Linked DNA regions of Homo sapiens: region 2 is linked to region 1. The links come from fine-mapping of genetic effects on gene expression. Tissue or cell type: whole blood. Region 1 holds a variant in brackets; the other region holds the start of a gene. All regions are shown on one strand. Distances are from middle to middle.

Region 1 (5,446 bases):
CCCAGTCACTCAGCCTCCACACATGGCCAGCCTGGAAGGTGAGGTTCCTTTTCCACTGGAGTTGATTCCACCTGTGGACATCAGAAACCCTGGCGGCCCCACTTTGCTGAACAGAAATCACTGGCAAAGCTGAACATCTTTCGAAAGGTAGGGCCCAGGGATGTAGGTGGGAGAGGGATTAAAATGTTTGCTTCTTAGGCTGTAAAGAGAGAGGAAGACATGCTCTGAGAGGCACAGTCCTGGGTTGATGAGGCCCTTGTCCCTACATGCTGTGCTGAGGTTGTGGGAAATACCCATGAGCAGCTCCCATGGGGATAGCCCTGCTGGAAGGGTCTTGCATGGGCCGTGGCTTGTAGACCCGAATGTTGTCTCCAAGCTCCTGGTTCAGCTTTCCAGGGTCTAATTTCCTTAGGGAAACTGAGGCTGAAGGATAGCCCTCAAGGTTTCCCTGCCTGGACTCCAGTATTTCTCCCTTGGACCGACTTTGTTCATTCCTAAGATGAGCACTTTTGTGCCTGGGTGAGAAGTTTTTGTGCCTGGCGTTGATGCCTTGATCGGCAGCTCGGGGACTGCCTGTGCTCTGAGACACAGAGCAGAGAGAGCTGGGAGGGCCACGCGAACAGAATCTTCTATACCCGTGGTCTCCAAGCTTCTGTGGGTCTCAGCCCCTGGCAGGGCTCTGAAGGACCATGGGGATACAGCAGAGAGGTCTGCATAGGTGCAGCTCTGCATGTAACTGCATGCAACTCTGCATGGACGCAACTCTGCATGTAACGCTGGGACCCCAGCAACCTTCAGGACAATGTTATCTGCGTCATCTATGGGTGTTCGAAGATGCCTATTCGCAGGCCCATCCTATTGCATATCAAGCTTACCAGGATTTTGCTTTCCTCCCCTAGGTTCCTCCGGGCGATTCAGATGCAGGGAGCATCTGTGAACTTCAGGGTGAAATCCCCGATTCGGTCCTGGTACTCACATGCACTTGTAAGACACATCTTTGGGGACAGCTGTAAGGTTCACCCCCAAACGCCACCAGGGAAGGGAGCTGGAGGAGACCTTTGCCTTTCCTGCCTATAAAGCAGACCCAGTAGAGGCTGCAATTGGGGTGGGGCAGGAAGACAAACCCTGCACAAGGTCAGTGCCACCTCTGTCTAGCTAGCTGCCCTCAGCCTGAGCTTTTCCACGGAGAATATTCCTCTACCCAGGAAAATCATTATCAGCCCGGCAGCAACAGCAGCAGCTGTTCTCTGGCCCAGGAAGAAAGGTTCCAGAGAAGAGTTAGTTTTCTCTTTTCTTACCAAAAAAAAAAAAAAAAATCAGAACCCAGGAGAGAACACCACGGTCTGAGTGCACCAGGGAGATGGTCGGCCCGAGTCCTGCCTGCCAGCAGCTGAGTCTCAAGAAACCCGAGGAGAGCCATGAGCGGCTTCCTCTGCATTTGCTGGGCCAGGACATCATTTGTTGACTCTAGAGCCCAGTCCCTAGCTCACGATTTCCTCCCTGGTTGCCATGGCCCCATACAGAAAACACAGCAAACTCCTGGCCCTGGGCAGCTCATTTATTTCAAATATTCCTTGCAGCTGGAATCCAACCATGTTTGGGTGTCTGGACTGGAGCATGAACTAATTGCTCTGTCTTCGGCCCCCTCCCCAGCTCCCCCGGCATAGTTTATGGTTCAGTAAATTCCACATTCCTCATCTCGTCGAGGAGCGGAGAAGGCGGGAGGGAAGCTTCGTGCTGAAGGGTGGGGACGGGAGGACTCTTCCCATCTATGGCCAAGCCCTGAGAGTCTGCTACCTGCTTGAAGGCAGGGGATTAATTACAACCACATGGGCCAAGTCTGCACAGATGGTTTTATTAATCCCACTCCCTTCGGCACAAAACCCTACTCCCCGAGAAGTCTCCTGGCAGCACAAGGGCCCTGATTTTTCCCTGTGCCTCCCCCCGCCCCCAGCGCCTGACCCCAACCCCACTCCTCCCCTGCTGCCCCCTTCAAAGGAAGCGGAGTTCCAACTGCAACCCAGACATGAACTCCAACCTGAAAATCATTTTACACCACCCCTTTCATCCAACCGCATCTGGGAAAGGCATCTAGGGGACCCTCTTCCCAATACCCACCTTGACCTTTGGAGACTTTACCTGGGAAGGAAGATCATTATCAGGAAGTTGGTTTAGGAATGTCTGGTCCATTCTTTTTTTGGAGGGGACAGAGTCTCGCTCTGTAGCCCAGGCTGGAGTGCAGTGGTGCGATCTCGGCTCACTGCAGCCTCCGCCTCTCAGGTTCATGCCATTCTCCTGCCTTAGCCTCCTGAGCAGCTGGGACTACAGGCACGCACCACCATGCCC[A/G]GCTAATTTTTGTATTTTTAGTAGAGATGGGGTTTCACCATGTTGGCCAGGATGGTCTCGATCTCTTGACCTTGTGATCCGCCCGCCTCGGCCTCCCAAAGTGCTGGGATTACAGGCGTGAGCCACCGCGCCCGAGCATCTGGTCCATTCTTAGAGACAAAGTCGCAACCCAGAAACTGCCATTTTCCAGAAATGCAGGAGCTTTTAAAGCATTTGTTTGCACACTCGCTAAGACTCCAGGTCCTGTTCGGAAAGCCTCATCTTACCCTTGCTATCCTCCTGTGAGATAGGTACTACACTACAGTGACTGCTGTTTTCCGGAGGCTCGTCCAAGGCCACAAAGCCAGTATTTGAATCCAGGTCTGACTCAGGAGCGCATGCGCTCCTCATTGGGCCAACCCACCGACACCATGGAATAATTTCCCTCTACCCAGCAACTTTGCAAAACAGCTGACACTGTCACAAATAGTGGTGTGCAAACTCTCTTAGGCAAGGTCACCTAGGGAGTTGAGGAAATGCATATTCCTGGGCCTGGCCCTAGAAGTGTTGACTTGGTACATCTCAGGTGGGGCCCTGGAATCTGCATTTTCACAACCCCCCTCCCAGATGCTGCTGATGTGTGTGGTCTGAGGATAGCTGGTCAGGAGGCTCTTAGAGAAAGGAACATGGGTCTTTGGGCCCAGGGATCTTGGGCCCTCAGGCCAGGCACTTTTCACGGCACTATCAGGTCCCAACACGCCTTCAGAATGAAGCGTCCCCACCGCAAGCTTAATGTGCTCTTGCTAATTCTTTGGAAACTAGCCGTGACACGTGATCACATCTTAGTAAATTTCTTGACTGTCATTTTATCACCCATTGATCCCCTAAATAAGCCAGAGTTTCCTGTCCTTTCTGTCGGGGGCTCTGCCCACATGGCTAGCAGAACAAGTTCACTCTGCAACAGTTCAGCAAACATCACCGTGCACTCAGCCCCAGGGGACACAAAGACGAATGAAGGACCTGCTCCTTCCCCTAGAGCCTGGACTCTGAGGACGCCCACAATGGCTCACACTCTGCTCCTAAAAAGCCCACGGTCAACTCAAGTTCTACAACCCCACAAACCAACCTGATGCGCTCACGAAGGCACAGAATCACTGTCTGTTAGACTTGGCAAGTTTCTGCAGCTTGGGCTGCCAGGCTGAGGAACTTCTGAAATGGGGATGAGGCTGTTCTGGGGTCCTCCCTCCAGGACTCTCCTTCTCCTTCTCTGTCTGGGGCTTTGCCTGGCATCCCACCCTCTGCCAAGGGGTGGTAGGGAGTCAGCCCATCATCTGCTGAAAACTGTGGGCCGTGGAGCTGGCTGGACCCAGGAGGGGTCAGCTATGTCTCTTTCCCCTCCCCCGAGGCACAAACGAGGAATTCAAAAATGGTTTGATATTTTAACAAACGTTCCTTTATTAGGTTACTGACTATTATCAACCATCATAAAATAGAACGGGAGTTTCAAAACTGTACAAGCCACAAGGCTCTGGGCTGGTAGGAAAGAAGGGTGGGGTCGAGGGTCCCAGGGTGTCGGGGGGTGGGAGATGCAGAGAGAGCTAGAGGGTCACCCGGCATCTGTGAGGACGGCTGGGTCAAGGCCATAAGCTGGGATCTGTACAAGGGAAACATTCATCAGAATGTGACCCACCTGAAACAGGAGGGAGGAAAATCTTTAAAAGTCTTACAGGTAAGGTCCCCTGCCCCGAAAAAAAAAACCGTCAAAATAATAAGGGGGTAATGTACATTTCTCACCCAGTCTTGGCACCAATTTTGTGCTTTAAAAAATATACTCCACTGTAAGATTTACTTAAAAAAAGGTACTCTACAGCAGCTGTTTAAAACATAATTCTTACAGACAAATATATATATATGTATGTATATATATTAAACATTTTAAACAAATAAAGTCATCTATTGTACCTGTGCAGAAATGAACCAAAGTTAGACTCTAAGAGAGTTAACTTCAAGCTCAAAGAAATGGCAAAGGCGGTGGCAGGTGCTGGGGTACGCTACGTGGAGGGGTTGCCAGGGATAGGGCACCCCTCTCTTCCGGCAGCCGAGCTACCCCTCTTGAGGCTCTGAGAGGGGTTGGGATGAACTGGGGCTGTTACCCTGGGTCCAGAGCCCCGGCTGGGGTGCTGAGCAGAGACCCGCGCTGGCTTCTGTGAGGCTCGACTCTGCTCCTGGTCTTCCCCATCCCACCCTGCCCCCGGCTTCTCGGGGAATGGAGACCCACTCGCCCTCCCTTCTTAGTTCTGGGGGTCCTCTGGCACACCCAGAGCTTCTGAGGATGCACTTGGGAAATCTCAGCTAGAAAAGCAAAAGCAAAATCAAACCCACATCAAAAGACCCACAGAAGACTAAAGAAATGCAACCCTGTGCAAGGGTGCCTGAGCCCAAGAGTTAGCTGGTTACCTGGAGACACAGGGGAATTGCTGCAGCCCTTCCAGACGGGCCCCCGAAGACACCCAGATTGCACGTGAGGCTATTTCTCCCTGAGGGGCCCGCTAGGGAACTTGGAGCAGAGCCCCCTGGAAACTGCAGGGCAAGGGACCCAGAGACATACTTGTGCCTGGGCACGTGTGCACATGTGCCCAGGGAGGGCGGGCGAGGCATACATATCCCAGGGAGGGCACAGGTGGAAGGAAAGTAACAGAACAGCCAGAGAGAGGGGACTGAAACAGGGTTTCCTTTCTAGATGGAATAAATAAATGGCTTTTGTTATTGTTAAAAGAATAAATACAGGGTACGGGGCACCGGCAGCCAGGATGGGTGCTGGGTGCTTATTTGCCTGCAGACAGTTCTTGGTTTCTGCCTTGGGGTCCATGGTGAGTTTTTGACGTCCTGAGCTTTATCTGCCATGGCATGGCCCCGCTGGGCACCCTGGGCCGGGCACCAGCCCTTGTCTAAGCACCTCTTAGTACCCCTGGTATCTGCTCTCAGAGCTGTGGTACCACCTGCCACCCCCACCACCCTGGGACCCCCAGGTGGCTGCAGCCTTCTCCCAGAGGTGTGGGAAGCACCCGTCCCACCCCGAGCAGATTGGAGCTCAATGTAGGGCTTTCGTAGGAGTTTATTC
Region 2 (5,552 bases), 78 kb after region 1:
GCCAACATGCTACTGCTTTTGTTTTCTCTGCTGCTAGGGTGGTAGCCAGACTGGAAAAGGAAGACTTGTAAAGTGATTGCCTTAGTCCACTCCACACCTCCCCAACCGCACGCGCGCACACACACACACACACACACACACTCACACTCTCACACACACACACACACTCCATCTACTGGGTAAAGTGCTCCCTGCAGAAGAAAAGCAGCTGTAAGAGAGCAGGAGTGCTTTAAATGATCTAATCCAGCCCATCACTTCACAGCTGGGGAGACACGAAGTGCCTGGCCCATGACCTCAGTGCTGGGGACAGTAACCAAGAGCAACAGTTTCAGGACTGGGGAGTCTTGGTCCACAGCCCTGGCTGTGCAGTCTGGGTAAGTGAACCGCCCTCTCTGGGCCTCTCTAGGACAGGCTGGCCTAGACAGTAAGACAGGACTTCCCTGACTCCAAAATTCCTCAGTGTGGAGAGACCACCTGTGCTGCCCATGCTTAGCCCAGGGCTTTCCACCACTGGGAGGGGGGTCTGAGGAGGGGGACAGGGCAGAAGGGAGAGGCCCCCATCCCCTTCCTTGCTTGCTGTTCTCCTCACACCCCACGATGAGAAATGAAGTTGTGGGCCCAGCCCCCCCAACGAGAAAATTCTTCCAAGGACATCAAACCTTAGTCACCAGGGATGGCGCTTTTACCATGAACACCTGTTAAAACTCAACTCATGACCAGTTTCTGATGCTACAGACTGGAGTGTTTAATTAAATATTACTCACTCAGGAAGCAGCCCCTGCCAACTCACCCCCAAACTGTGTAGTTCATTTTCAGAGAAATGGAGAGAGGAAGAGCCTGCGCTCTCCTCGGGGGCACCAGCAGGGCTTGCCTAGTGGGGTGTCTGTGGCCCAGCATGCCCGGCTATCCAGAACCAAGTAAAGAAATCACCATGAGGAGCAGTACCTAGGAACCAGAGGGCCCCCTGGATGGTCCCCACACACACTCACAGAGAAACACACACAAAGACACACAGACACACACTTGGAGACACACAGACACTCACACATACACAGACGCACTCAGAGACACAGACACAGAGACAGACACAGAGACACGTGTGGACACACAAAGAGACACAAAGACACACACACGCAAAGACACACACAGACACAAAGACACAGAGACACACATTTGCAGAGACAGACACTCAGAGACACAAACTTGCAGAGACACACACCCAAAGACACATACACACTCACACACAGACACACACAAAGACACACAGACATACACAGAGAGGCACACACAAATACACAAAGACGCACTCAGACACACACACACACACACAGTCACTTAGAGTCTCAGGCACACATTGACAGACACACAGACTCACACACACACTCAGAGGCACATAAATACACAGATGCACTTAGAGACACACTCACACACACACCCACATGAACACACAGACACACTCATACGCAGGCACATATTCACAAGGACATGCACAAACACACACGCAGATGCACTCTCAGAGACACCCGCTCTTCCTGCAGACCCGCACCCTCCTCTCGGGGCCGTCCCGTCCTCACCGGAACCTGGACGCCACCGAGCCCAGTACACGCCCGGGGACGGTGACCCATCCGCGGTTCCTCCCGCGGGCCCAGGCCGCCCTTGTTTTTCTGATTTAATCGATTTCCTGACAACCCTCCGGCTCTCCCTCCGCTGCTGGGAGAAGCCGCGGCGGCTCCGGGGCGGCGGGGAGGGCGGCGCTCGGGTGTCCCCGGCAGGCTCCCTGGGGGAGGCGCTGCGGGAGGGTGGGGGCGCCCCGACGGGGGACCGGGCCGCGCCGCCAATCCCGACTCGGACTGGCGGGAAAAGCGAAACTAACTCAGCCGAGCGGGGTCCCGCTTTCCCCGGGCTAAAGGGGGGACGGGTCGGCGGCCCCGGAGCGCCCCAGCCCCTCCTCGGGACCGCAACTCGTTGCGACGGTCCCCGCGCCCCGAGACCCCCGCCGCGCCTCGCCCCGGGACCCCCTGCCCTGCAGCGGCGGCAGCGCGGGGCGGGCCTGGGCCCCTCTCCCAGGAGCCGCGGCGAGGGAGGCGCCCCCGGAGCCACCGCGGGAGGGGCCGCGCCCCGAGTCCCCATCCCGTACTCCACCCGCTCCCCCGCGCCCGGCCCCGCGCCACCCACTCGGTCCCCCAGCGGCGCGATCCCCGCGTCCGCCCTCGCCCGGCCCCCCGCGCCTCCCCCTCCCGGGCCGGTCGCCCACCCATCGGGGTCCCAGGTGCCCCGCGCCGCCTACCGCGCCCGGGGTGCCGCCGCCGCCGCTGCTCTCCAAGGCCGAGGAGGCTCGGGCGCCCGGGCCGCGCCCGCCGCAGGGAGCGAAGTCGCCTCCTCCCCGCGGCCCCGGCCCCGGCGCCGGCGCCTGGAGCCTGGTTCCTGCTGCGAGCGCGCAGGCTGCCCGAGCGCGACTTCTGTGCGGAGGAGAAAAAGCAACCGACGGCTTTAAAGTGAAAAAAAAGAGAAAAGCGCCGGTGGGCGGGGCCGTCCCTGCCCCGCCCCGCCCCGCCCCGCCCCCGACCTCGGGCGCACGGACCACTCAGCACTGCAGGGAAGGCCGGGGGCGCGGGGCGCGGGGCGCGGGGCGCGTCAGCCCGGCGCTGGTTCGGCCGCCCCCTCCGCCCCCTTAGTCCGCAGCCCTCTCCCGAGCCGCCGCCCTGGTGTTGCCGGCCCGAAGCTCGGGTCCCTCCGGAGGCGTCTTTGGGAAACGCGTGGCGCAGGGCCTGGGTTGCAGCCGTGGGAGGCTGGAGTGGGGGCGGGGGTCTTACGAGAAGGAGAAATCTTCGCGGAGAGTGGGGTTGTCCCAGGAACCCCGAGCAAGGCCTCGCCGGCCTCCTCTGAAGTGCCCAGCGGGGACGAGTGGGCAGCCGCCGGGGGTCCAGGGAGCCTCCTGCAGCGCTGTTTCGGCCGCTCGCGTTTCGGTGCCCACGGGGACGGGGGCCTCGGACCTCGAGACCCTGAGGGCGCGGGCACCTGGCATCCGCAGGGCTGCTCCCTGAACAGGTCCCAGCCTCTGGGGACTTGTCCTGTGGCTCTAGCTCGTTCAAGGAATTTTCCTCCCCCTTCCCCGAACAGAGCAGTCACTTGGGACTGGGAAGATTTTAAAGACTTTGCTGTTTTGAGAGCAAAATCTCCTGGCATTCCCCACCCCTCGCTGTGTAGTGTCCATTGAAAACGGTGAGGAGTTAGCCTTTCTGGGGGAGCCGAAACAAATAGCGGGGCTTCCGTAGTTACTGTGTCTTTACCATAACCCAGTACAGTGAGGGTGGGACTAATGACACACTCACTGTAAAGGCGAGGAAACAGTGCCTGGCCCGAGGCCAGCTGTCCAGAGCTTGGAACCCAATTGAACTGTGAGATTACAAAGTTTGATGTCTCTCATTTTACGGTGCTGAAAATCAGTTTGGTTTAGCTTTGTTTGAACTCAGAATAGGATTACGGAGACTCAACCAACTGCCCTGGGCTGGGCGGGCCTGAGTGGGCATTCTGACTTTCCAGGTGCCAGCGGTTTAGGAATGTTGAACCCAGACTAGTCAGGTGGGCAGCCATGGCCAGCAGCTTAGGGGTGCTTCCCATTTAAAAGATCACTTGAGGCTGGAGGTGGTGGCTCTCACGCCCTTAATCCCCACACTTTGGGTGGCTGAGGCAGGCAGATCACTTAAGCCCAGGAGTTCAAGAGCAGCCCGGGCAACAGAGCAAGACACAGACTCTGCACAAAAATTAAATAATAATAATAATAATTGGCCGGGCATGATGGCTCACACCTGTAATCCCAGCGCTTTGGGAGGCTGAGGCAGGTGGATCACCTGAGGTCAGAAGTTCAGGACCAGGCTGGGCTTGGTGGCTCACACCTGTAATCCCAGCACTTTGGGAGGTCGAGGCGGGCGGATCACGAGGTCAGGAGATGGAGACCATCCTGGCTAACACGATGAAACCCGTCACTACTACAAATATAAAAAATTAGCCAGGCGTGGTGGCGGGCATCTGTAAGTCCCAGCTACTTGGGAGGCTGAGGCAGGAGAATGGTGTGAACCCGGGAGGCAGAGATTGCAGTGAGCCGAGATTGCGCCACTGCACTCCAGCCCAGGTGACAGAGCGAGACTCCGTCTCACAAAAAAAAAAAAAAAAAAAAAAAAAGAAGTTCAGGACCAGCCTGGCCAACATGGCAACACTCCATCTCTACTGAAAATGCAAAAATTAGCTGGGTGTGGTGGTACGTGCCTGCGATCCCAGCTACTCGGGAGGCTGAGGCAGGAGAATCTCTTGAACCCAGGAGGCAGAGGTTGCAGTGAGCCGACATCGCACCACTGCACTCCAGCCTGGGCAACAGAGCGAGACTCCATCTCAAAAAAAAAGAAAAAAAAGGTAATAATAATTTTAAAAGAGCATATGACCCCCTCCAGCCACTCTGCAGTTTGAGAACTGTTGTTTACTTGGGAGACTGGTGAGAGCCTCTGGGACAGGCCCATGGGGTGCAGCCCACGTCAGTCATTGCTGAAAATCACAGCTGCCTCTGATGGGTTCATTTCTCCTTGGGAGAGTAGCCCTGTTTGGTGGATTATTCACTGTGTGTGTGGCATCTACCAGACACTGGCATCTCATGGGGCTGGTGCTACGGCCACGTGGCCTGGGGCCATGGTGTTGTCAGCTTTGCTAAGAGGAACTCCACCAAGCCTCACCTCTTAACATCTGGGAAGCTTCCAGGGCAGACTGGGGCACTTTGGAGCTAGAGACCCAGCTTTGATGTTTAAGGCCCTGAAAGACAGTTCCTGATGAAAAGTCTTCAGCACCCCCACCCCACCCCCCTTCGGCGTTAATCTGGAAATCTCAGCTCTTGATCCAGTTGAATAATTAGACCCTGCTGACCTAAATTTCCCAGAAGAACCCCTGGGGAGTGGGCCTTCTCTCCTCCAGGACGCTGGGCAGGTTGGCCGGATGATGGAAGGCTGGTCAGCCGGCAGTGACTGCTGCAGCATGGGGCAATGTTGAGCAATCCTGGAAGCCAGTTTATGTGTCAGAAGGGCTCAGAATCACCCTAGCATGCTGATACTATTGTTTGTTAAAAAAAGATACATAATCTTGCAACATTGTGACATAAGCTGATAGATACTATCCAAAAATTTGAAGGGTGACTCAGGACTTATACAAAGATCTGTGTACTGCAGGGGTGAGTCGGGAGGGAGGTGGCTCTGGGCTCCCAGTGGTGTCATCCCCAACCCCCTCCCCAACTCCACCCCACCCCCACACACATTTTATCACTTGCATCAGCACAATTTGCTCATGTCTTTAATCTGTCTCCGGGAAATGGTGAAGAGAAACTTGATAGATGGTGAATTAGCATCAGCTGCTTTTTCTGATGATGGTTCTGAGCCTTGAGCTCTTAGCACAGAATCCTGCTGCCCTCACAAGTGTTAAAGGCTGCCATCTTCTCTGAATCCCTTTTGCTGATTGGAGCAAATGTGCAAAGGATTTGGTAATAGACAAACCCAATGCAACCCCCAGCTCTG

The links. PIP is the estimated chance that this variant, and not a neighbour inherited with it, causes the effect.
Region 2: SPSB1 starts here. The variant in region 1 is fine-mapped to the expression of SPSB1 in whole blood (INTERVAL, PIP 0.94).

What each region holds. Positions count from the first base shown.
Region 1 is chr1:9,367,842-9,373,287 of GRCh38, reverse strand. It overlaps SPSB1 (splA/ryanodine receptor domain and SOCS box containing 1), which reads right to left. Exons shown (of 3, transcript NM_025106.4): 3 at 3,756-5,446. Among named protein-coding and RNA genes, the nearest start is that of LINC02606, 58 kb to the left of the region's middle. RefSeq lists an enhancer at 513-2,220. The variant A/G (reference allele first, on the strand shown) is at 2,347.
Region 2 is chr1:9,289,807-9,295,358 of GRCh38, reverse strand. It overlaps SPSB1 (splA/ryanodine receptor domain and SOCS box containing 1), which reads right to left and starts at 2,465. Exons shown (of 3, transcript NM_025106.4): 1 at 2,288-2,465. RefSeq lists silencers at 1,531-1,820, 2,361-2,430, 2,501-2,580, 2,631-2,800.